Homo sapiens: one gene and its partners. The protein of the gene in region 3 interacts with the protein of the main gene of each other region in a biochemical or structural test. Each region holds a gene or a part of one and is shown on either strand. Other genes may lie near its edges. The genes, in order: FRMPD2, SYNJ2BP, CTNNA2, TJP3, CASK, DLG5 and PTPN3.

Evidence for each region.
Region 1: the proteins of CTNNA2 (region 3) and FRMPD2 interact in a test that uses a peptide from one of them, tested with the Homo sapiens proteins (one large-scale study listed by IntAct).
Region 2: the proteins of CTNNA2 (region 3) and SYNJ2BP interact in a test that uses a peptide from one of them, tested with the Homo sapiens proteins (one large-scale study listed by IntAct).
Region 4: the proteins of CTNNA2 (region 3) and TJP3 interact in a test that uses a peptide from one of them, tested with the Homo sapiens proteins (one large-scale study listed by IntAct).
Region 5: the proteins of CTNNA2 (region 3) and CASK interact in a test that uses a peptide from one of them, tested with the Homo sapiens proteins (one large-scale study listed by IntAct).
Region 6: the proteins of CTNNA2 (region 3) and DLG5 interact in a test that uses a peptide from one of them, tested with the Homo sapiens proteins (one large-scale study listed by IntAct).
Region 7: the proteins of CTNNA2 (region 3) and PTPN3 interact in a test that uses a peptide from one of them, tested with the Homo sapiens proteins (one large-scale study listed by IntAct).

The regions. Positions count from the first base shown.
Region 1 is NC_000010.11:48,267,846-48,272,036, reverse strand, and holds part of FRMPD2 (FERM and PDZ domain-containing protein 2), read left to right. Parts: intron 1-4,191.
Region 2 is NC_000014.9:70,385,710-70,389,900, reverse strand, and holds part of SYNJ2BP (synaptojanin-2-binding protein), read left to right. Parts: intron 1-1,294; coding exon 1,295-1,431; intron 1,432-4,191. Other genes in the region: SYNJ2BP-COX16 protein, read left to right, coding at 1,295-1,431. UniProt on the Homo sapiens protein: Regulates endocytosis of activin type 2 receptor kinases through the Ral/RALBP1-dependent pathway and may be involved in suppression of activin-induced signal transduction.
Region 3 is NC_000002.12:79,907,603-79,911,793, forward strand, and holds part of CTNNA2 (catenin alpha-2), read left to right. Parts: intron 1-1,991; coding exon 1,992-2,195; intron 2,196-4,191. UniProt on the Homo sapiens protein: May function as a linker between cadherin adhesion receptors and the cytoskeleton to regulate cell-cell adhesion and differentiation in the nervous system. Required for proper regulation of cortical neuronal migration and neurite growth.
Region 4 is NC_000019.10:3,731,834-3,736,024, forward strand, and holds part of TJP3 (tight junction protein ZO-3), read left to right. Parts: intron 1-101; coding exon 102-205; intron 206-1,919; coding exon 1,920-2,079; intron 2,080-2,493; coding exon 2,494-2,602; intron 2,603-3,732; coding exon 3,733-3,806; intron 3,807-4,035; coding exon 4,036-4,102; intron 4,103-4,191. UniProt on the Homo sapiens protein: TJP1, TJP2, and TJP3 are closely related scaffolding proteins that link tight junction (TJ) transmembrane proteins such as claudins, junctional adhesion molecules, and occludin to the actin cytoskeleton.
Region 5 is NC_000023.11:41,913,024-41,917,214, forward strand, and holds part of CASK (peripheral plasma membrane protein CASK), read right to left. Parts: intron 1-4,191. UniProt on the Homo sapiens protein: Multidomain scaffolding Mg(2+)-independent protein kinase that catalyzes the phosphotransfer from ATP to proteins such as NRXN1, and plays a role in synaptic transmembrane protein anchoring and ion channel trafficking.
Region 6 is NC_000010.11:77,793,906-77,798,096, reverse strand, and holds part of DLG5 (disks large homolog 5), read left to right. Parts: intron 1-1,502; coding exon 1,503-1,646; intron 1,647-1,908; coding exon 1,909-2,036; intron 2,037-3,138; coding exon 3,139-3,248; intron 3,249-3,979; coding exon 3,980-4,089; intron 4,090-4,191. UniProt on the Homo sapiens protein: Acts as a regulator of the Hippo signaling pathway.
Region 7 is NC_000009.12:109,375,989-109,380,179, reverse strand, and holds part of PTPN3 (tyrosine-protein phosphatase non-receptor type 3), read left to right. Parts: intron 1-546; coding exon 547-624; 3' UTR 625-4,191.

The DNA of each region.
Region 1 (4,191 bases), on a different chromosome or scaffold from region 3:
AGTGAAGTCATTTCTGGTCTGAAACCCCAGTTTTGCTGGCTTGTCTCTAGCCTATTCCCTGCCCTCTCCATATACTCAGGATTCATAATATGAATAGCTAGGATTTATTGAAAAACTGCCATATGCCAGACACAATAACTCATGGTATAAACGAGTAAAGAGAGGAAGTAACTTGCCCACGGTGAGGTGGGATCAATCCAGCTCTGACCTCGGAGCCTGCTCTTCCAGCCACTATGCTTTTCTATTCTCATTCCCCTCCTGAATTGTATTCACCCTGAGATATCAGTGTTTTTAGCTGCTTTCCTGGCAGAAGTCTGCTTTCGAGGCTGATTCCTATTCCTCAGGCTTCCTTTTACTGGTCGCTGGCAGCTCTACTGTTAACTGCCCTCCCTTTTTTTTTCTTGCCTTGGCTGTAAGCCTCCTTATTCCTGTATTTGCTTGAGCTATCATAGCCCAACATTGTTGGAAATAGAGTAGGTAGTGAAGGGAGGCAGGAAGGAGATGTGTAGGATGGTGCACAGGAACCAGTTCCAGGAGGGCTGGTGCCAGGCAGGAGGCAGATCAAGGCTGAGCTGTCAGAACTCACTCTTCAATAGATTCAAGATGGGTTAAACAGTGTCTGGCTGGAGAGTAAATGTATTAGACATTTTAAAAAAGTGCCATCTAGGAATTTCTTTTGTTTCTTCTATCAGTATCATTTTTGTATGATGCCAGTCCAGAGTGCAGGCAGCATCTGAAGTATTCACTTGTTAATTTACTGAGTCATTCAGCCAGTGGGGGAAGAAGGAGCTCCAGATGCGAGTGTCCCCACAGAGCCTGCAGAAGGACAGGAGGCAAGGGGGTTGTGGTGCGTCTAAGGCTGGAAAAAGGCCATGGGGGAAAGAGGAAGCTGCTAGAGATCAGTCCAAAGCGGTGGGCCTGAGGTCCTGCAAATCTTGCTCAGGATCTGAGCTGATCCTTTGGAGAATAGAAAGTGGCTGAAAGTTTTCACGAGGTGTGACATGGTCAGATTTGTGTTTTAGGAAGAGGACTCTGCAAGACAGAGAATGGATCAGGGCAGGGGCAAGGTATGGTTGTAGGAAACCATTTTGTAGAATTTACATTTCAGTGGTCATTCAGGGGAGGGTGCTGGTGGCTTAGACCAGGTCAGTGGTGGTGGGGTTGGAGAGAAACAGGCGGATTTTAGAGAGATTTTGGAGATGGTGATTAACGGGCTGGGAAGTTGAGGGATGGGAAGGAGACAAAAATGTCGTCTGAATGTTTGGCTTGAGGGGTTAGGTGGTGGGAATGCCATTTGCTGTATTCAAATAAGAGAGGTTGAAAGAGGAGGAGGTGGGGGGAAGGTGAATTCAGCTCTCTACATCTAAGGGGGTTGTCTAAAGGACATCCTGGGATCACCAAGCAGGAGCTCAAGAAACGGGTCTGAGCTTAAGACATGGCTGTGGAGGGGATGGACTGATGGTTGGTAACTTTGGAGCATGTAGAGTGATTTGAAGAGGGAGCCAGGGCAGAGAGAAACCCAAAGACCACTGACATTTGGCATTGCCTTTATTCATTGTTACAAATAATACCATGGCAAATATCTTTGAATATACATCTTTGTCAATTATGTTCTTGGCATCAATTCCCAGAAGAGGAAGACCCTGATGGCAGGAATGGACATCCCTTGGCTTTTGATACAGATTGCCAAACTGCTTTACAAATCAGCTGTCGCAAATTGGCCACACATAAGTAAGGTCTCTGAGAGGAACAGTGTCATTGCCACCTCATGGGCACTGAGCGCTCATCATCGAAGCCCACTTGAGGGATGAAAATGGGCCTCGAGACCACGTCCACTAGCAGCTCCTTGGATTATAGGCAGGAGTGGACAGTTTTTCCATATTGTTTAATAAGGAATCACCGTTTCTTTTATGACTTTTCTTAGTCTCACTTTCTCAATTACCTACTGCTGTTGGGCCCATAAGATTTTTCTCTCTGATTCTTTGCACAGAAATAGTCACTTTCGGTTTGACCTTCATCCCTTATCCCAGCTGGCTGTATAGCTCTTTGTAGATATCACTGTGGGAAGCAACTTCCTGACTCAGGGCCTGAGGAGGGGTATGTGGTAAATAAAGCCCAGGAGAAGAGCTTGAGACCAGAGTCCTCTCCCTGAAACCACTCGGAGTGGGATTCTGGACAAGCCTTCACCCTCACACCTTGGCTGTCTCCCATTTCCCATCTGTGCTACAGCAGGTCTCCTGGGTCTGTCAAGTGTGAGTTAAGGACCCCCTCTTCACTAACCAGTATTTTTAATGGTCTGCTCTGGATGGATTAATTTGACTGAATGAAGCTGCTTCACTTCTAGAGGAAAATTTTTAAACAAAGCATTCACCCAGTGGGGTTTGTGACAGGGCAAGCCACTTCTCAACCTGCATTAGGCTGGGAACCCACGGACGGCCTGGCCCTGCCTGAGTCCCATCAGCCAGAGGTTTATCCCTCAATCATCACTGCAGGAGGAGAGAAGGCTATGCTCTCCGTGAAGGGGGAACTCTCAGGCCTGTTCAGCTTCTGCATCCCTCTGAAGGCTGCATTTCAGTGACGCTGGCCACCCTTGTACTAGGTACCACCTGCCCCACCAGCAACATCCACATGCAACACGCCTCTGTGCATCCTATTTCCTATATGCTTAGAAATGTTCCCTAGGAGGCAGAGAATTGGCATTGCTGGGACTTGGCAAATACATGTTCTCAATTTTGATAGATGGCTCTGAAAAATCTATACCAATTTAATTCCCATGTTAATGGGTGTTATGAGAGGGCCTGGTCTGCAGCCCCCACCTTGCTAACATCAAATATTTAAATTTTTGACCCTCTTGATAAATTCTCATTGCTGTTTTGTTTTCCCTGATTTACTAGAAACACAGCAAATCTTTTCAAATATTTATTGAGTAGTTGTATTTTTTCACCTGTTTATTTCTTAACTTTTAAATTAAAGAGTTGTTTTTTTCTAATTGATGAGTAAATAGTAACCCTTTTGCCATTATATATATTTTCTCCTAATCTGTTGCATATTTTTGTTTACATTTAATTTTCATATATGGTCAGATAAAAAGTTGCAAAGAAGTTGCAAAGAGCACAGAGAAGTCCCTATACTCTTCCTCCAGTGTCCCCCAGTGATTATATCTTACCTAACTACAGCACAATGGCAAACCCAGACATTTGACATTGGTACAATATGTGTGTAAAGTACTATGCCATTGTAATACTTGTGTAGATTTATGTAACCACTACCACAATCAAGATACAAAACTATTCTATCGCCACAAAGATCTCCCCCAGCTCCCATTCTACTCCCTACCACCCTGCTTCTACTATCTCTGAGATCAGTCTCACAAGCTGTGACCTTTTGAGACTGGTTTTTCTCATTCAGCCTAATGCCCTTGAGATCTAATCAAGCTGTTGCACGTATCAATAGTTTGCTCTTTATTGCTGAGTAGTATTCCATGGTATGAATATACCACAATTTGTTTAACCATTCACCAAATGAAAGACATTTTGACTTAACAGTTTTTGGCTATCACAAATAAAGCTGCTATTACAAATAAAACACACACGTTCACATGCAGCTTTGTGTGTGGATATTCATTTTTTTTCCTCTGGGATAAGTGCACAGAAGCACAATTGCTCAGTTGTATAGTAAGAGTATGTTTAGTTTTTCTCTTTTTTAAAAAGAAACTGACAAACTCTTTTCTGAAGTGGCTGTACCACTTACATTCCCACCATCAACTTAGAAGAGATCCAGTTTCTCTGTATCCTCATAAGCATTTGGTATTGTCACTTTATTTTTTTTTCCTGTCATATAGGTGGGGAGGGATATCTCATTATAGACTTCATTTGCCTTCCCCTTATGGCCAGTGATGTTGAACATCTTGTCATGTGCTTATCTGCGATGTGTGTATCTTCAGTGAAATGTCTTTCCATGCCATTTGCTCATTTTTCTAATTGGATTGTTTGCTTTCTGCTGTTAAGTTTTGAAACTTCTTTGTAGACATCCTACATGTGAGTACTCCATATTAAGCATGGCACCTAAACCTACTTTCTGCCTCTATGGATTTGTTTATTCTGGATATTTCATATAAATGGAATTACACAATGTGTAGGCTTTTACATCTGGCTTCTTTCACTTTAGCATAACGTGTTCAAGGTTCATGCA
Region 2 (4,191 bases), on a different chromosome or scaffold from region 3:
TAGTTAAACTCATAAAAACAAATATTAGAATGGTGGTTTCCAAGGACTTAGGGAAGAGGAACTGGGGAGTTGCTAATCAACGAGTAGTCAGTTTTTTCTACAGTGAATAAAAGTTGTCAATTACTATGCCCAAGTATAGATTGAGTAGCCCAAATCCAAAAATCTGAAATTTGAAATGCTTCCAACTCCAAAATTTTTTAAGGGCCAACATGACGTTCAAAGGAAATGCTCATTGAAGCATTGCAGATTTCAGATTTTTGGATTAGGGATATTCAACTGGTAAGTTTAATTCAAATATTCCAAAATCCCCCAAATTCAAAATTCAAAACACATTTGGTCCTAAGCATTTTGGATAAGGGATACTCAACCTATATATGGTTGTACTTGAAGTAGCGAAGGAAGGGAGAGTAAATTTGGTGATTTAGTCCTACCATGAAATAGCAGTTACCTTTCTGGTTCTGAGGTTTCTCTGCCAATACCTACACCACTGCCTCCACCACCAAAATGGAAAAAAAAAAAAAAAAAAAGAAACTCTCAAGAGATTTTTCTAAAGCACTATCATACATAAATTCTCCAGAAGCTTGGGAGAAGGAAAGTGTGGAAGGGAAGGTATGGTTAGAAATCTCTCACACTAAATTAGGAACAGTTCATTTGATAATTGGTAAAAATGCATAGCTTCTTTTGATGAACACAGCTAACCCTGCTGTAGTAATATCAGGAATGTCAGGAATTGGGTCCTTTGAATACCATCAACAGGATCAAAACTAAATGTGAGTAGAAGAACTTACATCTAGGCTGGGCATGGTGGCTCACACCTGTAATCCTAGAACTTTGGGAGGCCAAGGCAATAGTGATTGCTTGAGGCCAGGAGCTCATAACCAGCCTGGGCAACTGAGCTATGAACTCCTGAGTAGCTGGGATTACAGGCGCCCACCACTATGCCCACTAGCAAGACTCTGAAAAAAAAAAAAAAAGAAAAAGAAGAACGAACTTAGAGTAATCACCATTATTCTTTAAGTTCTATATAGATCTTTCTTTATATATTGAACAAAACAGGTGGATCACTGTGTTTATATTTTCAGTCGTGCCTCATTTGAGTGAGCAACTCAATACTCTTGATATGGCTGACCTTGTTCATGACCATTCACCAGCTCCATCACAGGCTGACTCGCCAGCATCTCCTCTCCATCAGCCTTTCCTCCCCAGTAGGCTTTCCCTCCCTTTCTCTTCATCTTCTCTAATCTCTTTCTTTCTTCTTCACCCCCATCTTTTTACTCCTCCATGATTTTCTCAGGGCTGGGCTTCAACATCGTCGGTGGGACAGATCAGCAGTATGTCTCCAACGACAGTGGCATCTACGTCAGCCGCATCAAAGAAAATGGGGCTGCGGCCCTGGATGGGCGGCTCCAGGAGGGTGATAAGATCCTTTCGGTGAGAATGGGCTTCGGCCTCCTTCACTGTCCTTTGCTCCCTAAGCCCTAGGTCCTACCCCTCCCTATCCCTTTTCCTTGAAAAGATTTGGATCTGGAAATATACAGGTTGTAGAGTTGAATGGGAACAACTTTGATCAGTCATTCTTTCCAACCCTATCATTGAGCATGGAGGGCAACATTATGCTCACCTGATAGATGAGAATGTGAAGCCCAGAATGTGAAGTTACTTGTTCAAAAAGCACAAGGCAGGAAGCAGCGAGGGACTCATATGGGGAAAAGAGATTTAAAATCCACAAATTTTGTCTTTCATCCATTACTTTATCACCTCCTTTTGTTGATTAAAACACTAATGTGTATCTTCCTTTGGGGGAATGTCAGCCCTTATAATTGGATTTAACATCACAAAACAGAAAGAAGGAAGGTTGGAGTTAAGTGTCCTTTTCAGACTCAGAGCCCTTTTTCACCCATTATTAACATGAAAATTTGGAATGCAGTTGATTTGGGTACCTGTCCGCTGTGTTCCCATTTCATCCTGCTAATGTCTCTACGAAGACATACTACATGGTAATTATTAATCTTACTATTTTCCAGAATATTTCCTCAAGGGCAGTGAAAAGATCCTTTTTTTTTTTTTTTTGAGATAGATTCTTGCTCTGTCACCCAGGCTGGAGTGCAGGGTCGTAATCTTGGCTCACCGCAACCTCTGCCTCCCGGGTTCAAGCGATTCTCCTGCCTCAGCCTCCTGAGTAGTTGGGACTACAGGCCCCTGCCACTACGCCCAGCTAATTTTTTATATTTTTAGTATAGACAGGGTTTCACCATGTTGGCTAGGCTGGTCTCGAACTCCTGACCTCATGATTCGCCCACCTCAGCCTCCCAAAGTGCTGGGATTACAGGCGTGAGCCACCGGGCCCGGCCTAAGATCTTTTTTTAACCTTTTGAATCATAGCACAGTGCTTAATAATGTTTAAGAAATGAACAAGTTAAGAAATTCAGGCAAACCTAAAAAGGTTGACTGATAAATATGGGCCCACAGACCTCAGGTCTTAAAATAAATTAGAACAAGCATACAGTCAAAACTATTAAAATGCAAAATATAACTCTGGCCCTATTGTTCATTTCTCTACCTTACCATGGGCCACAGTAATCCTATGATACTATCAGTTTGCTGGGGGATAAGGGAGTATAGTTGGAGATAATTATTCTGTAGAATTTCTTTTTTTATTAATCTTCAGGACTAGTGAAAAATGGCCAGCTTATTACTTGTATGGAAACAGTGCAGATGATTGGTATAAAGAATGGAAAAATGCTGAGGGGGTGAGATATTATCTAGAATATTCTTGGGAGAGCTGGCTTCAAAGGGCTAGACTTAAATAAAAGGAAATTGAAATAGGATAGGGCTTCGGAGCCCTATCCTCTCCAGATGGGCCATAAGCCCATGGTCCGAAGAGGAGAAAACTATTCCCTGTTTTCTTTTAGAACTGAATAGGGCAAGATGGCCACGTTGGGAAAACGTTGAAATAAATGAATGAAGTACAGACAGGAGAAGTCTTGATTGGCAGAATTAAGTATTGGTCTCAGATACATGATTTTGAACCTACCTCTATAATGAGTTAGCTTCATCCCTTAAAAATTTTTTGCTATATAGTTTCATTTGAATTTTCCCTTTCACATTACTTCTCATGCAGTTCAGGTGATTAGTGATTAAAGGTCATATGTGTGAAATCTCTTGCTCTTCTTAGTTGTCAGCTTATTGAACACCTCTCTGCCATGAAGCCCATTTGGTAGCAGAACCTGAAGGCAGAGATACAAAGGAAAAGAGAGAGAGAACATCCACCTTTTCTTCATTTGGCATCTGAGTATTTGAGTGATCAGGCTCAGCAGTATGGTTCTGAATGCCTCTTCAGGAAGACTGTGACTCCACTTAGTCCCCCAAAAAGAAAGAAAATCAGAACAAGTAGCTATTAGAGCCACCTAAATTAGCTCAAGAATGTCTAAGCATGTGTCCTCGCTGATCCATAATATAAATATAGTATCAAGCACTGCAGTATTTCAGTCCTTCTCATTGACTATTCTGCCTCTCTTCAGTCCATTAAGCTTCTCCTAGACCCTGTTTATTAATCAGTGAGATGGAGACAGTGATAATATACCTGTCTTCTCAAAAGGATAGTGAAAAGTTTAGAAGCAGATTATTTCCTTTAGCTCCCAAGGAAAGACATTCATCCAATATGAATCAACTTGGCAGTGGTACTGTAAGGAATGCTGAGAGTGGGTTGTTAAAATAAAGGTGTAGCATTTAGTTAGAATCTATGCAGCTTAATATTTTGACACATAAATTACATTATCCTCAGAACACTGGAACCTGGGCTCTGTGGATGAAGAATAGTATAGGAGTTAAGAAGAGAAAGAAGAGAGCTGTATTATTTTAAAAGCTTTGGTTAAACGTAGATTATTGCAAAATGAGAATGGTGAGAAGTATTTGAGCACTAAATGTCAGGTAACATGCTAAGAACTTGAAATTTATTTTGTTTAATATTATAGTAATCCTATGAGGTGGGCATGATTATTGTGCCCAAGCCATTTGCCCAAGGTCACACAATTAGTAAGCAGCAAGGGACTCAAACTGGTTTGTCTGAATTTGTAGCCTTTTTTTAAACCACTATGTTATACTGTTATACTGCCTCCTAAAAGGTAAATGAGGAGCTAGGATTAGTTATCCTAAAGACAAAGTTACATGGTGAATTAATAGTAGATTGCA
Region 3 (4,191 bases):
AACAGCTGTGCCTAAAACCAAGGCACAAAGGACAAAACCCAAATAGCACATTTTGGGTAAAGTAAACATCCCTTTTTCATCCGTTTTCTAAGATATAAGAGAGTACAAATGTAAGAATGATCATCTTGCCAAAGCTGGCACAGAATAGCTGTCTTATCTGCAAGATTTCATGCACTGCTTTCTAAATTGAAAAGAGGCTTTGACCAATTAGTGATTTTCTAAAAAATCCAAGATTCCAGTGGACTTCAGACATGGTCTGTGTTTGGTGTATACCTGTTCCTTTCTAAGTCCCAACCTACCTACACTCATTCCTTAAGACTTCAACATTCTTGTGCCCAAAGGTTCTATCTCTCTGCTCTGGAGATTTGCATTTTAACAGGAATCAGAGAATTGGAGCCCAGATATTCTGCACACAACCTGAACAAACACCCTAGGATGCTTTGGAGGGTTACAACAAACTTTCCCAGAGCATACAGCTGGACTTCACTTTGTAATAACTTAAGCAGTTATTGTATATACTACATCAGCATAAAAAATCCATAAAAGCATCTTTTATCTCCCCTTCTTTTTAGCATTAAGTACAGTAGTAGGCATATAGTAGGTCTTCGGCAGGTGCAGATTAGCAATAGAATAACTACCTATTCTCATTTATGTTTCGTATTGTATTTGTAAATATGGTAAATTGTTCTTTTCTTACAACTCTTTAAATTTGGTGAATATATAAGGAATAAGGAACGTCAAAAGAAGCAGTAACAGAGTGGCAATTGCACCATAGTATTCTACAGTTGGAAGACCATTTGCCCCATCATTGCCACTCTGGTTCTTGGACCTCTGAGAGTGCACCCCCAATGAAGCACACCATTTCCTGCAGCAGGTCATTCTACCTTATCATTGTGGAATGAACTTCTTTGCTTCAGGCAGAAAAGGCTCCCCAAAGGAAACCAGCCTTTGGTCAATGTCACCTTTGCTTCTAGACTTCACACAGTTAATGATCACATACCATCACGCTCTACCCTCCTCATTTGCTGGGAGTTTTCCAAGTTCTGTTTCTATCTTTCTGACTACCCTTTCTGTCTTCCTTTTTGATTCTGGTCCTTCTGTATAGGGGTCTTCTCTGGCCTGCTCTTCTGGCTCTATTCACTTTACTAGTATGTAATTCACTAGTTTATGTCCAAATACCCCTGACATTTACCAGATCCCTATAAAGACTGTTATAGCTCCTGAATTTTGGACGCATATTTCCATCTACCTCGGGGCATCTCTGCCCACATGTTTCCAGGCTCCTAAAACTTGGCTGGGGAAATGCTAAGCTCATGTTCTATGTGACGCCTTCCTTTTAGGAAATATCACTATTTTCCTCTTATATAGGCTCCTTCCAAACAGGTAAATACCTTTATAAGGATACTGTCAGTTATTTGTGACAAGTCTCATACACACATTAGGAATCCTTTTCTAGAACACTAGCATAAATTAACCTGTACTGAATATGCCTGTTGGGTGTTATGTGCCCAAGTTTCAAAAGGCATCCTGCCATGGGAATATCTGCTTCTCATGAGGAGGATTAACGTGTGTGTATACAAGCCACAGCTAATGCATAATTAAGATGTTGATTATTTATCATGTTTTAGCTCTAAAATCTTTATATAATTCCCCAAAGCATTACACTGAAATGTTCTTTCCTTAAAGGCTACGTATTTTAAAAATGCCAAAAAAGTGTCCTAATCTTATTTGAAAGCTCTTCCGTTGAGATAGCCTTTGCCAAGAACATATTCTTCAAATAAGATGTGCTCTTTTAGCTGAAGATTACATTTAGGACAAAATATCTAGAAAAAGTTAATACTTTGTCAAGGCAACTTTAGAATTTGAGTAACCAGTTTCTCCTCCTTGGGGACTCCTGTTCTTGCCTCAGATATTTCTGGTTTCAAAACAGGGTGCCAAGGCAGACCTCTCTTCTCTGCTGATTTTTGTGTGTGTGTGTGTGATACTTTCAGAATAAGATTATCCTGGACCCCATGACGTTCAGCGAGGCCAGGTTCCGGCCGTCCCTGGAGGAGAGGCTGGAGAGCATCATCAGCGGCGCAGCGCTGATGGCCGACTCCTCCTGCACGCGAGACGACCGGCGCGAGAGGATCGTGGCGGAGTGCAACGCCGTGCGGCAGGCGCTCCAGGACCTGCTCAGCGAGTACATGAATAATGTAAGTCTTGGGATCTCCATTCTCATGTCTTGGTGGATTCTGTTCTGCAATCGTGTTGCTCTTTTGGAAGCATAGATAGCAGGAAAAGAGAACAGACCAGGTGTTTACCAAAGAGAGTCAGGTGAAACCAAAGAACTGCTTTGGGAGAGCGCGTGTCGTGTGTGTTGTTTCTGAATCCATTTTTTGTTTGTTTGTTTTAATATGGAACAGGTGGATGGAGAATAAGCTCTTTCACTTTTTACTTGGCTGATTTCTTCTCGGTCATTTTAGTGGCTGCATTTTGAAGTAGGTAAGATTTCAATTGGTAAAGGTAGATGATTGATGGAAACAGCTGAGGATATAGTAAGTCCTCTGTTACAAAGAGCACTTTTAAACCTAAGGATAGCTGTAGATGCGAATCTTCACCCCTAAGAGGCATTAATAAATCTACTAGGTTTAAAAAACGTGTGGATAGGGTTGTTTAAGGAAAAGTTCTAAATGTAGTAAAATTTGGAGGTGTTTTATTGATTCATAGTCAGGAATTGCTTATAAGAGTGAGTCTCTTAAGTTTTCAAATAGGTATGTATGACTGGTATCTAATTGTATTTTGGCACATAATAGCCATCCTCTCCTATAGTTGTAAAATGTGACAGTTTCTGTGTACCTGTAACCTGCAAGAAGGTGATGAAACTCATATTCTTTGCCTTGAAAGGCACTAAATTATGGCTGTATTGATTTGCTACATTCATTCAGCAGAGGCGATGCTTGCAACAGTGGATGATCTGTGCTTCCCCCTTTCCTGGACTTTCGGGTTTGAGATAATTTAGCACAAATTGGGGAAAAATGTAGATAAAGTGAGGTCTCGATATTACATTTTGAAGGAATGCCCTGTATAGCTACCAGGTGGGTAACAGAGACACTGAAAATCTGCTCACAGCTACTGAAGTCCATGTTAGGTATTATTAGAACACCCCGAGGCAATGCTGAAACAAAGCAGCCATTCAGTGTCTCTCCCTCCAGCATCTTACCACTCCCATCATGAGTAAAAATATGTAGCTAACAGACATGCAAGCAAGGAATGAGTGTTGACAGTAGCAGTGCTCCTCCTGCTGACCCTCCAGAGAACTCACTGAGAAAGCAAAAAGATGTCAATGAGAAAACCTAACAAACTAAAAAAAACAAAATTTGTTTCCTTTCCATGAACCTTCAGATTCTTTGATTTTGGAAGACTTGGCCTTTTTCAGCACACAAAGAATAAAATGTGGATGCATCATGTGGCACCCAGCTGCTTATGAGGACGTCTCTATAGGACCCTGGATGACCAACACTTTCTGTAATTTTGATCCATGGTATTACGTAGGGTGCAGCTAGAAATGTTGACCCCACAGTCTCCCAGCTGAGTGAATCTTTTGAATAGCAGATGTGTCAACGAAGAATGCTTATGAAATCTGAGACGCTGTTTGTTTGTTCGTTGTTGTTGTTAACAAAATAGCAAAGGGCTAATTACATGGATGTGGAATTTGGTTTTACATTAAGGCACGCTAGTGGTTCTATTAATGAATAGTTACTGCCAAAGAAGGAAGTAGAAACTACAGAGATCACAGTGATGGTTAAGATCTCAATATAAATAAATCAGACAAAAAAGTATGTTCTTCTAAATAGAAATCACAGAACGTGACTAAATAAGAGTTGATCAACACGTGACATGTAATTTTCAGTTTGGTGTCTAGAATCCTGCCAACTAGAAGTTTTTCTTTCAGTGTAATCTCATGCAGATCAGCAGAGCTGATGGATTTTTGTATTTTATTGACTCCAGGCACTTTTTGTTTTCTGTTCGCAGCCTCGTGATGCAGGAATGTTTTGTGCTTTATTGAAATCTTAGTTTCTATTTTGACATGGTTACAGACAATACATCAATGGGTATAGTGCTTAAATTTCAAAATGCACAAGTTCTATTCACATTGAACCATCATGATCAAAGCCTGAAATAAAACACCTCCTACTTGACATTTATGTA
Region 4 (4,191 bases), on a different chromosome or scaffold from region 3:
TAGGATGGGAGGGCCCGCACCTGGACTGCTTACAGCAGGAGAATGCTCCCAGGCACCCGTCTCCAGAGTCCTGCCTCAGTTTCCCTCCTCCCCCCTTACAGAGTTTGGCGTCAAGCTGGGCAGTCAGATCTTCATCAAGCACATTACAGATTCGGGCCTGGCTGCCCGGCACCGTGGGCTGCAGGAAGGAGATCTCATTCTACAGGTGAGGCCGGGCTTCTTGTCCTGAGAGCAGGGAGACAAGGCAGGGTTGGGGCGGGCAGTCCCACGGAGTCATACAGCAAGGACAGCAGAACTGGGCCCCAAAGCATTTACCTTCAGTGTTGTTGCTTGTATCTCAAAGGTTGCAGATGGCCAGGCATAAAACCCCCTTTTTCCCCAGCTACTACTAATCCACAGCCAAATGTCGGTTTCTAGTATCCCCATGGGGTTGTCTGTTTCTAATACCCTCTAGCTTTGATGTGCATCAGAGACTCATGTGGGCAGCTGACTCCTGGACCTACCCTAGGTGACTGGATGCTAATGACCCAGTCACCAGGTTTAGGGGAGCTGCCCTGCCCTAAAGGATGGTATCTTTCTGGATTCTTCCCCTGAAAGTCTGTTTCTAGTGACTCCTAGTGTTTGATTTCCAAATTGCTTTCAGCTGATTATTTCCAGTGTCTTCAAAAAGTTATCTGTTTCTTTTTTTTTTTTTCAGACAGAGTCTCGCTCTGTCACCCAGGCTGGAGTGCAGTGGCGCAATCTCGGCTCACTGCAACCTCCGCCTCCCAGGTTCAGGTGATTCTCCTGCCTTAGCCTCCCGAGTAGCTGGGATTACAGGTGCCCGCCACCACACCCAGCTAATGTTTGTATTTTTAGAAAAGACGGGTTTCTCCATGTTGGCCAGGCTGGTCTCGAACTCCTGACCTCAGGTGATCCCCCCCGCTCGGCCTCCCAACGTGCTGGGATTACAGGCGTGCACCACCACACCTTGCTAATTTTTTGTATTTTTAGTAGAGACGGGGTTTCTCCATCTTGGTCAGGCTGGTCTCGAACTCCCGACCTCAGGTGATCCATCCGCCTCGGCCTCCCAAAGTGCTGGGATTACAGGCATGAGCCACCACACCCGGCCGACATTAAGTTCTTTCTAGGAATTGTGTGTTTCTAATCTACCTCTAGATGACTGTTTTCTTTTCTCTTTTCTTTTCTCTTCTCTTTTTTCTTTTCTTTTCTTTCTTTTTGATATGGAGTGTCGCTCTGTCACCCAGGCTGGAGTGCAGTGGCGGGATCTTGGCTCACTGCAACCTCCACCTCCCGGGTTCAAGTGATTCTCCTGTCTCAGTCTCCTGAGTAGCTGGGACCACAGGCGCCCACCACCACGCCCTGCTAATTTTTGTATTTTTAGTAGAGACAGGGTTTCACCATGATGGCCAGGCTGGTCTTGAACTCCTGACCTCAACTGATCTGTCTGCCTCTGCCTCCCAAAGTGCTGGCATTACAGGCGTGAGCCACCGCGCCCCACTCTAGATATCTGTTTCTAGTTATCTCCCAGAAGATTGTGTGTTTCTAGTATCTTTTAAGTATCTGATACTCCCTCTTCTCCAGTTAGAGTTGTTTATAATGTCACCCTCACATCTGTTCCTAGTATCCCCTGAGACATTTCCACTTTTGGTAAGAAAGGAGAGTCAACCTGTTTCTCATTTTCCCCAGTGTCTCCCACCCCTCTTAGAACATTTTCTGTTTCTAGAATTCGGTGCTCAGTTCTTGGTGTGGTCTCCACTCACAGCAGGAATCCAATTCAACACTTTCCTTAGGGAGTGGCTGTTTTTAGCAACCTCTGGGGGAATTGTCTGTTTCAAGTTCCCCCACACCAGGCTGTTTCTACTGTCTCCCATCTCTCATTAACTCACTTCCGCTCTTTCATTCCTGGTCCCTTTCAGATCAACGGGGTGTCTAGCCAGAACCTGTCACTGAACGACACCCGGCGACTGATTGAGAAGTCAGAAGGGAAGCTAAGCCTGCTGGTGCTGAGAGATCGTGGGCAGTTCCTGGTGAACATTCCGCCTGCTGTCAGTGACAGCGACAGCTCGCCATTGGAGGGTGAGGACCTAGAGGTTAGGACCTGGGAGGGGGTTGAATGGATGGCAGGGAAGGTGGGAAGCCCCAGGCAGGGCCAAGGAATCAATGAGCCTGGTCCCTAGAGGCTCAGAGAGTGACAGGAACTTGCTGAAGGCCACACAGCAAGTCAAGAGTTCAGGGGGGCGATCTCGGCTCACTGGGTTCAAGCGATTCTCTGCCTCCTGGGTTCGAGCGATTCTCGTGCCTTGGCCTCCTGAGTAGCTGGGATTATAGGCGTGAGCCACCGTGCCCAGCTCCAGAGCCGAATCTTCTAACTGAGCTTCTGACTTTGGTCTAGGGCCCTTTGTTTAGAGGGGTGTTGATATACCCCTCTGTAAAATGGGTCCAGTCCAGAAGGCGTGACCATGGCTGATGAGATGTCCTCTCCCCCTGCAGACATCTCGGACCTCGCCTCGGAGCTATCGCAGGCACCACCATCCCACATCCCACCACCACCCCGGCATGCTCAGCGGAGCCCCGAGGCCAGCCAGACCGACTCTCCCGTGTAAGTATCACCCATCGGCCAGAATGGTGATAGGGAGGGAGAGGGAGGTGGGAGGGAGAGGGGAACGCGGGCGTAGCTTTCCAACTGGGGGTAACCTTGAGGACGCAGTCCTGTATTTCTAGCATGTGCCTCAAAATACCTCCAGCCTCTACCCATTACCCAGTTCCAAAGCCGTGTCCGCATTTGTAGGTGTTGGTTACAGCAGCACCCCACTTCTTAGTATCAAACTCTGCCTTAGGCCAGGTGCGGTGGCTCACGCCTGTAATCTCAGCACTTTGGGAGGCCGAGGAGGGTGGATCATCTGAGGTTAGGAGTTCGAGAACAGCCTGGCCAACGTGGTGAAACCCTGTCTCTACTAAGATACCAAAATTAGCCCGGCGTGGTGCCGGGTGCCTGTAAGCTCAGCTACTTGGGAGGCTGAGGCAGGAGAATCACTTGAACCCAGGAAATGGAGGTTGCAGTGAGCCGAGATCGTGTCATTACACTGCAGCCTAGGCAACCAGAGCAAAACTCTGTCTTAAAAAAAAAAATTTCTTTTTCCTCTATTTATTTATTTGTTTTGAGACTGAGTCATGTGAGACTGGCTAATTTTCATATTTTTGGTAGAGATGGGGTCTGTATTGCCCAGCTATGTTGCCCAGGCTGGTCTTGAACTCCTGGGCTCAAGCATTTGGCCTGCCTCAGCCTCCCAAAGTGCTGGTATTACAGGCGTGAGCCACCACGCCCAGCCCAGATAAATTAAAATTATTTTTATTTTGTTTATTTATTTATTTATTTTTTTGGAGACAAGGTCTCACTCTGTCGCCCAGGCTGGAGTGCAGTGGCATGATCTTGGCTCACTGCAACCTCTGCCTCCCGGGTTCAAGCAATTCTCCTGCCTTAGCCTCCTGAGTAGCTGGGATTACAGGCGCCCACCATCATGCCCGGCTAATTTTTGTATTTTTGGAGAGACGGGGTTTAACCTCGTTGGCCAGGCTGGTCTTGAAATCCTGACCTCAGGTGATCTGCCCACCTCGACCTCCCAAAATGCTAGGATTACAGGCATGAACCACCGTGCCCGGCCTAAAATTCTTTTTAAAATGGCCCCTTGAAATCCATCCCTGCCTCACTCCCAATCTGTTCCCCACCAGGGAGAGTCCCCGGCTTCGGCGGGAAAGTTCAGTAGATTCCAGAACCATCTCGGAACCAGATGAGCAACGGTCAGGTGGGTGGTGACTCTGAGCACCCCTGTCCCTGACATTTCTGATCCCTGACAGCAAGGCTGTGCCAGGCAGAGCTGGGGGAGGTTGGCCTGAGCCTAAGTGGTGAGACATGGTTTCCTGAGAAGGACTCGAGGTGGGTGACAGTCCTTCCAGGATGAGGACATAAAGCAAAGGTTTGGAGGCTGGACTGAGCCAGTGTGCTTGGGAAAGAGACTGGCTTTTCCCTTTCAGAGTTGCCCAGGGAAAGCAGCTATGACATCTACAGAGTGCCCAGCAGTCAGAGCATGGAGGATCGTGGGTATGTACCCCAGAAGAAAGCAAACCCGCTCAAAACTCCTACATCCCAGGCTGCCTCCCTCATCAGCGCAATCCTGCCTGCTTGTATCC
Region 5 (4,191 bases), on a different chromosome or scaffold from region 3:
AATGATTTCCCCAACTTCCTTCTCCTACTAGGTGGTCACACAGTCTCTGGATTTCTCAGTTAATGTACTCACTCATTCAACAACTGCTGACCAAATATTTTACTATGTGTGTCTGTTGGTTACCAAGTTACGCAGAGGATATGTGCATGAGTGTGTGAATAACTCATTTGAGCTCCCTGAGGCCAGAGAACTCAAGTGTTTGGTGAATAGCAATACCTAATGCTAAATGACGAGTTAATGGGTGCAGCACACCAACATGGCACATGTATACATTTGTAACAAACCTGCACGTTGTGCACATGTACCCTAAAACTTAAAGTATAATAATAATAAAATTTAAAAAATAATAATAATGACAATGGCAATTAAAATAACAACCTTTAGACATTTCACATAGATCATGCTATTCAATCCTCACAACAACCTTACAAAGTATATACCATTAACCACATTTTACAGATAAAGAAACTGAGGGTCAGAGAGGCTAACTAACTTGCCCAGGACCTCATAGCTAGAAATGAATACATAAATGAACAATGAATAAAAGTTAGCACCACTAACAATTTTACACACATGGTAGAAAAGAATGTTCATTTCACCATATTATTTATGTAATAGAGCCTGTGTTTAGCACTGAGAATGTGCACATTTGGAAATTGTTGAAACTTACGTACATAACTGCCAAAAGTAATTTGAGTATCTCAGAGACATTCTAGAAATAAAAAATACTTATGCTGCACTTTACAATTCACTAATCCACACAAATGGTTTGTGAAGCAGCTATCATTCCTTTTATAAATAAGGAGAAAATAGCCACACTGTGCCCAAAGGTTACCAGATCAGAAGGGGGCTGCCTAACAAGCCACAGAGCAACCGCATTCCATACCTTTAGGGGAAATCACATACCAAGGGTAAGAAAGAAGGCCAAGAATTGATGATGTTTTCTAAAAACACAAATTAGAATCTATGAAATAGCAGTAGTATAATGGTAATCTGCACACCATGGAAGGACTAGAGAGAGAGACCTCTGTAACTGAATGAATATCATCATCCTTTAATTTAAGAAAACATTAAAATCTGCATGTAGTTGAATGGTAATACAGTGTACTTCTATCCTAGATTTAAATATACCAAAATACTCTAACTTAAGTGTTAAAAGCCTGAAATACAGACTGAACATAGTATATTTTGGATATTATTAAACTACATGAGAGACAGAACAATCCACATTCTTACCTGCAAATGATTCAAATACTCAAAACAATGATTACAAAGCAAAAAGGAAAGAAAGTATATTAAAAGAAATCACAAAGATTGGGAGAAAAAACAATGTACAACAGCCCAGTAATAAATAGAATACAAGAAGCTGAAGTGAAATAGCACGCACTTAGATACCAAAAAACTGGCTTATGTACAACGAAGCAATCGTTTCTTATTGTGAATGGATGTGGACAACCAAAAATAGCCAATGAACAAATTTAGTTAGGAGGTGATGGGAGAAGAAATGTGAAAGAGGAGGACAGTACTACATTCATCCAACGTGGACAAAAATCCTTGAGGCTAGAAAGAATTCAGTTTCCTATAGTAGAAAGATATAAGACAATAACAGTGGTTTGACACATACCAAGAACTTAAAGTAAATGTAAAGTATCTAAAACTTACTTTGTCACTTCATGAAAGGCTTCCATTTAATTGACAGTCATGCACAAGCTCGGGAATGAAAAGGACATAATCTTAGGAAAACCAAATGATTTTACCTAAAAGCCAGTCATCAGAAATCTGCAAAACACAATTAGAGTGAAAAAGAAATCTACTTTGTTTTTACCCTAAATATGTTGGTTCTGAGATAGATTTACAGAGAGATAGTATAAAATTACTAGTATCCACAGAAAAGAAGCCAGACCTAGCTTTTCAGACACATCATGAATTGACTATTAAACATAATATTCATTTTGATAAGTGCTTTAAATTGTTTCTCTGTTATAGCCACATGTGTTCTTAGTCCTCAGAGTATATTGGCATTTTACATTATTGATCCTCCCCCCTCTTTTAAACTTCTGTGCAGCCCATTATCCTGATTCTTCTAACTCTATGAGTTATACTCCAAACCACGAGCCCTAGAGCAGTCAACCCCCAAGAACTTGTTCACTCAGTTTTACTTCCACACAGATGACTCCCAAATCTTCACTGCCATTCCATACCTCTCACCCAAATTCCAGCTCAGCATTTCAAGCAATGTAAAATTACAATTGGCTTGCACTCAATCCAAAGCCAAAGTAACAATCCATATGACAGAATACTGGGCAGCAGCTAAAGAGGAGATAGAGACAGACAGATACATTGATGGATATGACAAGATCATCAAGTATATACTATTATTCATGAAAAATCAATATTTCAGCATAGTATACAAATATCTCACTTTTAAACAAAAAGCTTCCAGAAAGATGGAGAAGAAACTGAACAATGGTTACCTCTAGAGAATGGGGATATGGATGGTAGGAGAATTGAGACAGACTCACTACTTATCTTTGTATCACCTATATTTTAAATTGTATGGCTGGGCACAGTGGCTCACGCCTGTAATCCCAGCACTTTGGGAGACCAAGGCAGGTGGATCACCTGACGTCAGGAGTTCGAGACCAGCCTGGTGAAACCCCGTCTCTACTAAAAATAAAAAACTAGGCTGGACGCGGTGGCTCACGCCTGTAATCCCAGCACTTTGGGAGGCCAAGGCGGGTGGATCACGAGGTCAGGAGATCAAGACCATCCTGGCTTACATGGTGAAACCCCATCTCTACTAGAAATACAAAAAAAAAAAAAAAAATTAGCCGGGCGTCTGTAGTCCCAGCTACTCGGGAGGCTGAGGCAGGAGAATGGCGTGAACCTGGGAGGCGGAGCTTGCAGTAAGCCGAGATCGCGCCATTGCACTCCAGCCTGGGCGACAGAGTGAGACTCCGTCTCAAAACACACACACACACACACACACACACGCACACACAAATTAGCCAGGCGCGGTGGTGCATGCTTGTAATCCCAGCTTGTTGGGAGGCTGAGGCAAGAGAATCACTTGAACCCAGGAGGCGGAGGTTGTAGTGAGCCAAGATCGTGCCACTGCACTCCAGCCTGGGAGACAGAGCGAGACTCCATCTCAAAAAAAGAAAATAAAATTTACTACGTGCATCATTACTTTTATAATTTACTGTATAAAAACTAATTAATAAAGAAAAGTAACACAAAATTATTAAATCTCAATGTTGGAAATAAACATTAACTTCAAAACAAACTAGCTTCGGAAATGAAATTTTCCCAGGGTAGAAGTCAGAGACTCTATACTGACTTGGGCTCTACAACCAATACCATAGTGGCTCCAGGACAGAAAGGAAGGAGAGCAAGTTCTGTAGCATCTTAAATCCCACAGCATAAATCCAGAGCCATATTTGGTGCTTCTAGAATCTTCACTGTCAGTTGCAACTAAAAAATAAAACCAAAAAATGTGAGAACAGCACATCCCATCAGCTTGTTGGCTGGGGTCCGGTACCTGCTCTGCAATAGTTAACTCAGTCTCTTGATTATTTAAGGTGTACAGTGCTGGCAAACAGCTAGAAGCTCACAGACTCAGCGGCTGCAGCTCACTACACGGTTTTCAGAATCAGAGAGAACAATCTCCGTATTTTTATCACAGGATAAAGGAATAACTATCCTTTGGAAACCACTCCACCCCACTTCCAACAAACATCTACCTCTGAAACCTTATTACTTCTGGTTTGGCAAGTTAGGGGTAATTAATCAACTATCCTGTCTGTTGGGGCAAGGGAAATGGAAGAAAAAATTTGGAGAGTAAAAGAAGTAGAGAAAGTTCCAAAACAAATTATATTTTGGACAGATGGCCAAGAGTCTATATTTCCATTGCTAGATTTACCAGTTAGTTTGGTAACAAATGCTGATGTTTCATTAAAGAGAAAGACAAAAATAAAAAAGAAACAGATGAAAGAATGAATAGTATATGGAACCTCTACTGAAGAAATAAGAAATTTAACCAGAAAGTCAAACAACTAAAATTTGCAGTATAGAAACTCTGAAAATGAAGACGTGTCTTTAAGAAAATCCAACACAGTATTTTCACAACTTGAATTAGCAGCAGAATGCAGCATGAAATGAACAGACTTTAAAACCATGGAACCGCGTTGG
Region 6 (4,191 bases), on a different chromosome or scaffold from region 3:
TTGTGCTTCAGCTTCCTGAGTAGCTGGGATTACAGGTGTGCGCCAGCACACCCGGCTAATTTTTGTATTTTTAGTAGAGAAGGGGTCTTGCCTTATTGGCCAGGCTGGTCTCAAACTCTTGACCTCAAGCGATCCACCTGCCTCAGCCTCCCAAAGTGCTGGGATTACAGACGTGAGCCACCATGCCCAGCAGTGATCACTTCTAAAAAACACACACACAGGGACAGGGCAAGAGGAGAGGAGAGACTTTACTTACTCCCTGAGTTTGCCCACAGGTTGCTCTTCATGGAGCCTGCTGCTGCAGCTGGCACTGTGCTTGTGTTCTCCTGAGCCTTCTGCCTCCTGGTCCCTGTGCCTGCTCTGCAGTCACTCCTTGTTCTGCATATGCGTACAGATCCCTCCAGGCCAAGCCTCTCATGGACCCTTCCTCCCAAGCCTGCAGTCATCTTGTGCTCTGCCCTCCCCATCATCTCCATACTCATCCTCTTGCCCTGCTCTTTCTGGAGACTCTCATCCCACTTCCCTCCTGGGCCTGCCCAAGTGGTCTTTTCACCCTGTCATCCAGCCACAGTGTCTACTGAAGCCCGCCGCTCCTGGAATTGCCAGGCAGCTCTTGCGTGCTCTCTTGCTGTTCATGTGTTGCTCTGTTGTGACTCTAGTTAAAGTGTGTGCTTTTTAATGGCAGGAACTCTGTGTTCTATTCTTTATTATGTTTCTGAGATTCCAGCACAGTGACTTATACCAGGGAGACGCCAGGAAGATCTTGCTGGGTTTTAGACTGTGTCTCCCTGCAAGGACTTTATTCATTTGGTGCAAGGGGAGGTTTACTGCATGTATCAACTAGGATATTGGTTTGACTGCTTTAACTGAAACCAAATAACAGTGGCTTAAGCATAATGGGCAGTTTATTTCTCTGTCATGTACAAGTCTGAGCTGTGGTTGATGTGGGAGAGGCATTGCGTTCTGAGGATCATCCAGGACCCAGGTCCCTTCCATCTTGTGCCTCTGCCATTTCTTAAGGGTTATCCTCAACTGCATGGCCAGAGCTGGCTCACAGCACTCACCTGTTCTAGCCGTGCAGATTGGGGAGGCCTCACCTGTCACTGGGCAGGTCTGGGTTACACTGACCACACCTTCCTGGGGAGTGGGAGCTTTACCTGCCAAACCCCAGAGGCTGCCTTGCCAGAGAGCAGAGGAGAATGGAGATGGGGCAGGGGAAGCAGGCGTCGACCCACGAGGAAAAATCAGAGCAGAAGGAAGCTCTGGGATGAGTGGTTGAGACCAGCTGCCTCTGGTGTTCACAGAGGGCATGGGGGGTGCTCATGCTGGACTCCAGGGGTGACGATGCCCGGTTGTGCCTGGGACACGAGATTTTCAGTGCTGAAGCTGGGGGAGTCCCAGGCAAACCAGAGTGGGCGAGGTCAGGGAGCGGGGTTCCCCAGCCCCACTCAGGTCCTCCACTCCAAGCTGGGTCCGTGACGCTGCTGCTCTCTCTCCCTCAGATTCGGTGAGCCTGGCCTATCAGCGGGTCCAGAAGGTGGACTGCACCGCTCTGAGGCCTGTCCTGATTCTGGGGCCTTTGCTGGACGTGGTGAAGGAGATGCTGGTGAATGAGGCTCCTGGCAAGTTCTGCAGATGTCCCCTTGGTAAGGGGCACGGGGCACCCTCTGTGCCTACTGGGCTCTTTGTCTCTATGTCCCTGTCCACCTGCCTGCCCAGCTGTGCACAGTGGGTGGCAGTACCGGGGGGCAGATTTCACAGTGTTCCAGAAGCCTGCTGACATGGGTCAGATTCATGCATGGCAGGACTGGGTTACTGACAGCTGCTGAGCAGTGTTCTTCCCCTGCTCCCTCTGCTGGGGCTCAGCAGGGCCTGGGGCTCCCTGATTCCTGTGTCTGTGCATTGCAGAGGTGATGAAGGCCTCCCAGCAGGCCATTGAGCGGGGTGTCAAAGATTGCCTGTTTGTCGACTATAAGCGGAGAAGCGGCCATTTCGATGTGACCACTGTGGCGTCAATAAAGGAGATCACAGAAAAGGTACCCAGGGCTTCAGTCTGAGGATTAGGCATCCAGTATTAGACCTCCTGTGCACAGGTCTAGGCCCCTGGTCCGTGATCCTCTGCCCCAGCGGCTCAGACCTTCAGTGAGCCCACCGTGTTGTGTTAGTCTGAGTTCACCTGTGCCTGGGCTTGCCCTCATGGCTGCTGTGTGTTTCTGCAAGCACATCCCTTGGTGGGGATGGAGGAGTTCCCCTGTGTATGTGCCGCCCCATCTTCCTCTCTGGCAGGTGCGGGGGGTCTCATCTCTGATGAGAGTATTGAGCTCTGCGGAAAGGCCTCTCGCAGGGCATTCCGGAACGGGGTCCCCAAATGCATGTGCCGAACAATTTCACATGCACCTTCTGGGGACAGGAACGTGCCTTCCCTCAGGGTCCCTGCCCCTAAAAGGGCTATGACTCTCGGTGCCTTCGAACATCCTAGGCAGCACGAGGGCGGGGACGTCTGTGGGGAGTGCTGGTGGGGCAAACACTCGGAGTCCAAGGACACAGCCGCTCCTTGGGCTCCATTTCTCCAGGCTGCTCAGCTCGCTCGCTGGGCTTTGCTTCCCTTCTCTGTTAGATGAAGGTGTTGGCTTCTCACTGCTGAAAGTGGGCAAACTCTACTTGGGGGAATGCCCCAGTGGAGCATCTGGGGGTCGGGAGTGCACGGGCCTGCACTCCACCTGGATGCCTGGGACGACAGACATGACAGACATATTTCAGTCTCAGCCACACAAAGGCTCACCAGACTCTGGCTCTTCATTCGCTCAGTCTGGCAAAAATAAGGCTTCAGAGGCCAGGGTGGGGCAGGGCTTTCAGAAGGTCCCTGTATCTGGGCAAAGGCGGGAAAGGAAGTTTGGAGTTGGGCTGGCCAGCACCCCTAGCCCCCTAAGCCCTGGCTCCCAGCCTTGGCCTTCCTCACAGCAAGTGGGGTTTGTTGGGAGTTTCGTGGGTATGGTTTCCCCACGGTGTACTGTGTGGCTTTACTGCCTTGTTTGTGGGTAGAGCCCTGTGAGGTGAGGTGGGTCCTGCTGGTGGCAGGACAGGGGGCTGGCTGCCCCTCACTGCCCGCCAGGGCTCACTCTGCACCCCCCACCCCAGAACCGACACTGCCTCCTGGACATTGCTCCGCACGCTATTGAGCGGCTCCACCACATGCACATCTACCCCATTGTCATCTTCATCCACTACAAGAGCGCCAAGCACATCAAGTAGGTAACTGGCCCCCTGGGCTCCGCTGGGGCCTTGTCACAGGTGGGGCTGGGAGCCCAAGTAGGGAGCAGGGTGTGTTGGGGTGGGGGGTTGAGGAATGAGAGATGGGCCTATGGGTCTTGAAATAGGCAGTACGTGTAGAAAATGACCCTTCCCTGTCGGCCCTGTCCCCTACTCAGAGGTGGTGTCAGCCAAGCGCAGCCCCTTCCTCGCGCCCCTCCGCCATTTGGGTGCTGCCACTGTTTTTTGGGCATGGCCAGCTTGGTCTGCACAGCTCCCCTCTCCTGCCCCAGCCCCCTTTCCTCGCTACGTGCTGCTTAGGAGCAGGGGAGCCAGTGGCCTGGGCACAGTCCCACTCAGCCCCGAGCTGGCTCATGACTCAGGAGCCGTTGCCTTCGCTGAGCTTCGGCTCCTGTGCTGGTTGGGCCAAGGGCTCACCAAGGCCCTGCTCCATTTTGCCTTTCTGTGCTGCTGAGCTTCTGGGACCTGCGCTAGGGGCTGCTGGTGCATCTGTTCCAAGTGTGTGTGCTGGGGGGCCCTCCTTCCCCCATCTGCCCAGAGCTCCCCCGACAGCCTACAGGCTGTTGCTGTGCTTTATGTGGGGAGCACATGGGGCCTCCCTCCACAGCCTACCCCTGCCTTGATGGGGCCCCTGTTAGCCTGGACAGAGGAAGGAAAGAGGGCCTGGAGGAGGCTCAGTGCTCAGCCTGGTGTCTGGCTGTCCCCACAGGGAGCAGAGAGACCCCATCTACCTGAGGGACAAGGTGACTCAGAGGCATTCCAAAGAGCAGTTTGAGGCGGCGCAGAAGCTTGAGCAGGAGTACAGCAGGTACTTCACAGGTAGGTGTGCGTGGGCCTGGAGTGGGGAGCAGGCAGCAGGGAAGGAAGCAGAGGCTTCCTAAGGCTGTTTTCTTAGCCGTGGAGAAGCCCGCACTTTCTACA
Region 7 (4,191 bases), on a different chromosome or scaffold from region 3:
ATCCCCCCTGTATACTTTGCTACAATATGTTTCTTAGGTATTTGCTAAGATAAATAACTGTATCCTGCAGAGCATCTTTCAGTGGCTCTGCTTTGTAAAACACAATCCAGACTCCTTACCCCAACACAAGGTGCCCACAACCAGGTCCCAGCCCACCTGTGCAGCCCCTCCTCCTCCACATGCCTAGGTGTTGAGTCCAGGAGCAGGCTCCCTGACCCCGTTTCTCAAAATGGGCTCTTACTGAGGCTTCCACACTTCCACTTACAAGAAGGGCTGTCCCGCAGGGACTTTTGCTCCTTCCCACCTCCCCCAGACCGCCAGTTTCTCCCTCTGTCATGTCTCCATGACACTTTGCCCACCCCTCTCTGGGAGTGCCCCCTCCCCGCATCATATAGGAACTAGGGCTTCACAGGTGTACCTGGCCTGTGGCCCAGAGTTGGCGCTCAGGGAATATTTACAAATGCTGCAAAAGACCCACCGGTACAGGGTGTGGTAGGCAGCATTTCCTGGAGCTACAGGACTTGACAGCATTTTTTTCTTTTCCAGAGCCAGTACAAGTTTGTGTGTGAAGCGATTCTTCGTGTGTATGAAGAAGGTTTAGTCCAAATGCTGGATCCTAGTTAAGACAACTGTGAAAAAGTTCATTCCTCTTTCCCAAGGGCATCCTCCTTGAAAGAGGAGGACAGACCTCTCTGGAAGCAGCAAGAGGAACCAGTAGCTGTGGGAAAGGAATGGGCACCTCTGAACCCAGGCACTTTAAACTTCTATAGAAAAGATATCGTGTACATAGGAACTGGTGTAGATAAGCATGCAATTATGGCATCATTTAGGCCTGTATTTCTATGGAAAGATACAAAAAGGATCTCAGTTTGGGGCCTGTCCTAATGCCTTCTTCCCTAACATCACCACACACACCCCTGTCGGCATCCTGGAGCAATTGAGACCGGACACCCACAGAGCTGTTGTCCTCCCAGCAACAAGATGGTGTGGTTATCTTGGGTCATTTGGATGTTTTGTTTGTTTCTGTGTGTCAGACTGTAAGGGCTGAGCTTTCTGTGCTTCTAGGTGGAGCTGGAACAATTCAGATTCACCCGCCCTGATGCTAAGGAAACCCTGACGTATGTACTAGATGGCAGGGCACTGGGGGTCAGGCTGAAGGCTGAGCAACACCTCTCTGCCCTCCCTCCCTTTGTCCCATCTCCCAGCGACTTCCAATATTCATGTTTCTGAGAATTGTGTCCCTCTTCAGGTTCCCTCTTGGTGCCTAACCTGGATTAGTAATGTGCATTCAGGTGAATTTTCAGCTGAGGCTCTGAGAACTGGTACTCTCAGTGTGTTCTGGTCATCTTGTGGCTTAGTTGTAGAAGCAGGTGTGTCTCTTGCCTCTGCTTGCCTCCTACTGCACACTCAGCACCCAGGACTGGAATCACCGACTACTGAATCTCCTACATGTATTGCTGCTACTTCAAGCTCCTCCACTTGAAACCTTATGATTTTCCCAAGGGGAGATGGGACAGTGTCATCTAAATATTCCGAATGTTTGGCCTTCTGAGAAAAGAGCTTCTAGTAATTGAACCATGGGAAACCCAGCTTCTGGAGGGTTGGCCGTGGGGCTGTGTACATGTGTGTGCCCAGGGGTGAGTGTTTCTCAGGATTCCTAACGATTCAAATTACCGTTGAGTATATATAAAGAATGAGTCTCTGTATGGAAGAACAAATGTGTGCATTCACCCCCAGTCACAATGGTCTCCATTGCATTTCAAAGGAGAGGATCAGACTATCTGAATATAAACACAATCTGATGTTAATTTATTCTAAGAACACCATCATTTTGATTGTCCTAAAGAATTCTGCCTTTGTGAATACCGTGTTAAATTTTTTTAAATTTGTGACAGGATTGTAGCAAATTATTATTTAAGGAAAATAAATTGTGTAAACATTTAATGTGGTATTTTTGAACAGCGGTTTTTATGTACTCAGAAGAGGAAGTAAAGCCAGGTTCTTAATGGTATTTATAGAAAAGATGTTTTCATATTATAATGCACATAAATGAAGCCATTTTGATATTCAGCAAATTCGGTGCCAATTGAATAGTTTGCTGGTAGCAAGACGGATGAAGACCTATATGGGAGATTCTTTATCTCTAGAGCTAGCATATTTACTTGCATACTTTGTTTCTTTTCCACATGGATATTTTACTGCTAAATGGCAGAGGTGGGAGGGAGATGTCACACAGTACCATAACCCCATATTGAAAACAAGAAACCACCAGAAAGTTTGCAGCTAAGGGGCAGGGGATTCAGTTCCTACGCCCACTCAGCACTAACTACTTGCGGGCCTGGTTGCTTAGAAGCTCTACCTCTCTTTCATTATCTGTAAAATAGAAACAATACTTAGGACTTTAGTTGGAACATGAGGATTGAATAAGATCACGCTATTCATGTGACTTTTTATCGGCTAGAACAGCAACAGACACTGCTGTGGGTGAGTTACTTAGAAAAGTTTAGTTATCAGTGATTAGCCCAAAAACACATCAGTCAAAAATAGAATCCACTGGATTTTTGTCTCTCTTTTTAGAGACAGGGTCTCACTGTCGCCCAGGCTGGAGTACAGTGGCATGATCATTGTTCACTGCAGCCTCAAATTCCTGGGCTCAAGCAATCCTCGCACCTCAGCCTCCTGAGTAGCCGGGACTATAGGCACATGCCACCTCACCTGGCTTGTGTGTGTGTGTGTGTGTGTGTGTGTGTGTGTGTGTGTGTGTGTGTGTGTGTGTGTGTGTGTAGAGACAGGATCTTGATGTGTTGCCTAGGCTGGTCTCAAACTCCTGGCCTCAAGTGATCTTCCCACCTCAGCCTCCAAAACTGTTGGGATTATAGGCGTGAGCCACTGTGCCCAGCCTAACTGGGTTTTTATGAGAGGAAAATAGAAAATGCTCTTCTAGAAGAGAGAGAACAAGAGCACAAAATAATCTGGACTCACAAAAATTCAGCAAGCTCCAAGAAAGGGGGATGGAGGGAACGCTGGCAAAAATTTAAATGCCATTAGGATATTTAGCAAGTTATTACTGTTTGGTAAAAATGCATCATCACCCTGTGTGCAAAATGCTTGCAAAGTAGTCTAAATGTCTTTGGAGATGGGTGTTTTACTGCTTTTTTCCAAAAACAAATTGTTTATTATGGTTGCAGAAATGCAGCCATTACGGTCACATAAATTTCTAAAAAGCCTACCAAAGGTTGCAAGCAGTCTTCTGCCACTGGGCAGGCCAGCAGTTCAGACCCAGCGAGGTTGCCAGGAACAAATCCAGGAAATACTGGGAAGAACAAGACAAGAGAATTACCTAAAAGAGCAAACAATTCAAGTAAATCCTGTAGCTATTACCACTTAAAATCCGTAGCTCAAGATTCCTGTTTCACCACCTTATACACTTAAGCAATTATACTTAAGCCTTTTTTTAGTCCTAAGTGAAGAACTACATCAGAATCAGGATAAGTATTTTGCCTGGGAAATTTGGCTGCATATGAATGGAGAAGACATTTACATCCTATGTTCTGGCACTTTCTGAAAGATCTAATTAAACATGTTGATGTGCCAATTTAATCAAGATGAGAGATCCCTGCTGGTGTCACCCTCTAGAACCTGCACTTGGTGTTTTGACTTTCCAGAAGAAAAAAATGCAACTTTGGTTAGGGGGCAGTGGTTGGATCACACAGTTGTCTTTCGTTTCCTACCACAGTAATTCATATTTAAATATGCTTTTAGATTAGTGTGGATACTATTGCTGCTGTGTTGCTACCTGACCTTTTTCTGGGGGGGGTACCTCAGAAATGAGCATTTGAGGGCAAGCGAAAAAGCCCTCTTCATCCTCCAGAGGCAACAAAGAGGCAGCAGAAATGGGGAAAGATTGTGAGAGGCAGGGCTTGGGTCTAGACCTGGACTTAGGCAAGATATGTTGCCCTCAACCCTGAGTTTTCTTATATGTAAAAAGGGAAGGTTGGGCTGGACTAGATGAGGTCAAGATTTGCCATTCTGGGAGGCTGATATTCCAGAGAATCAAAATTAATCCTAAACCAAAGCTTTATGGCTGCTACAGAGACATGTCACATTTCTGAGACTTGTCACCAAGAGTTTGTCCCTCAGACTTTGGCGCTGTTGAATGCAAAGACAAGGATGGCCACCTTCTGGTTCTTG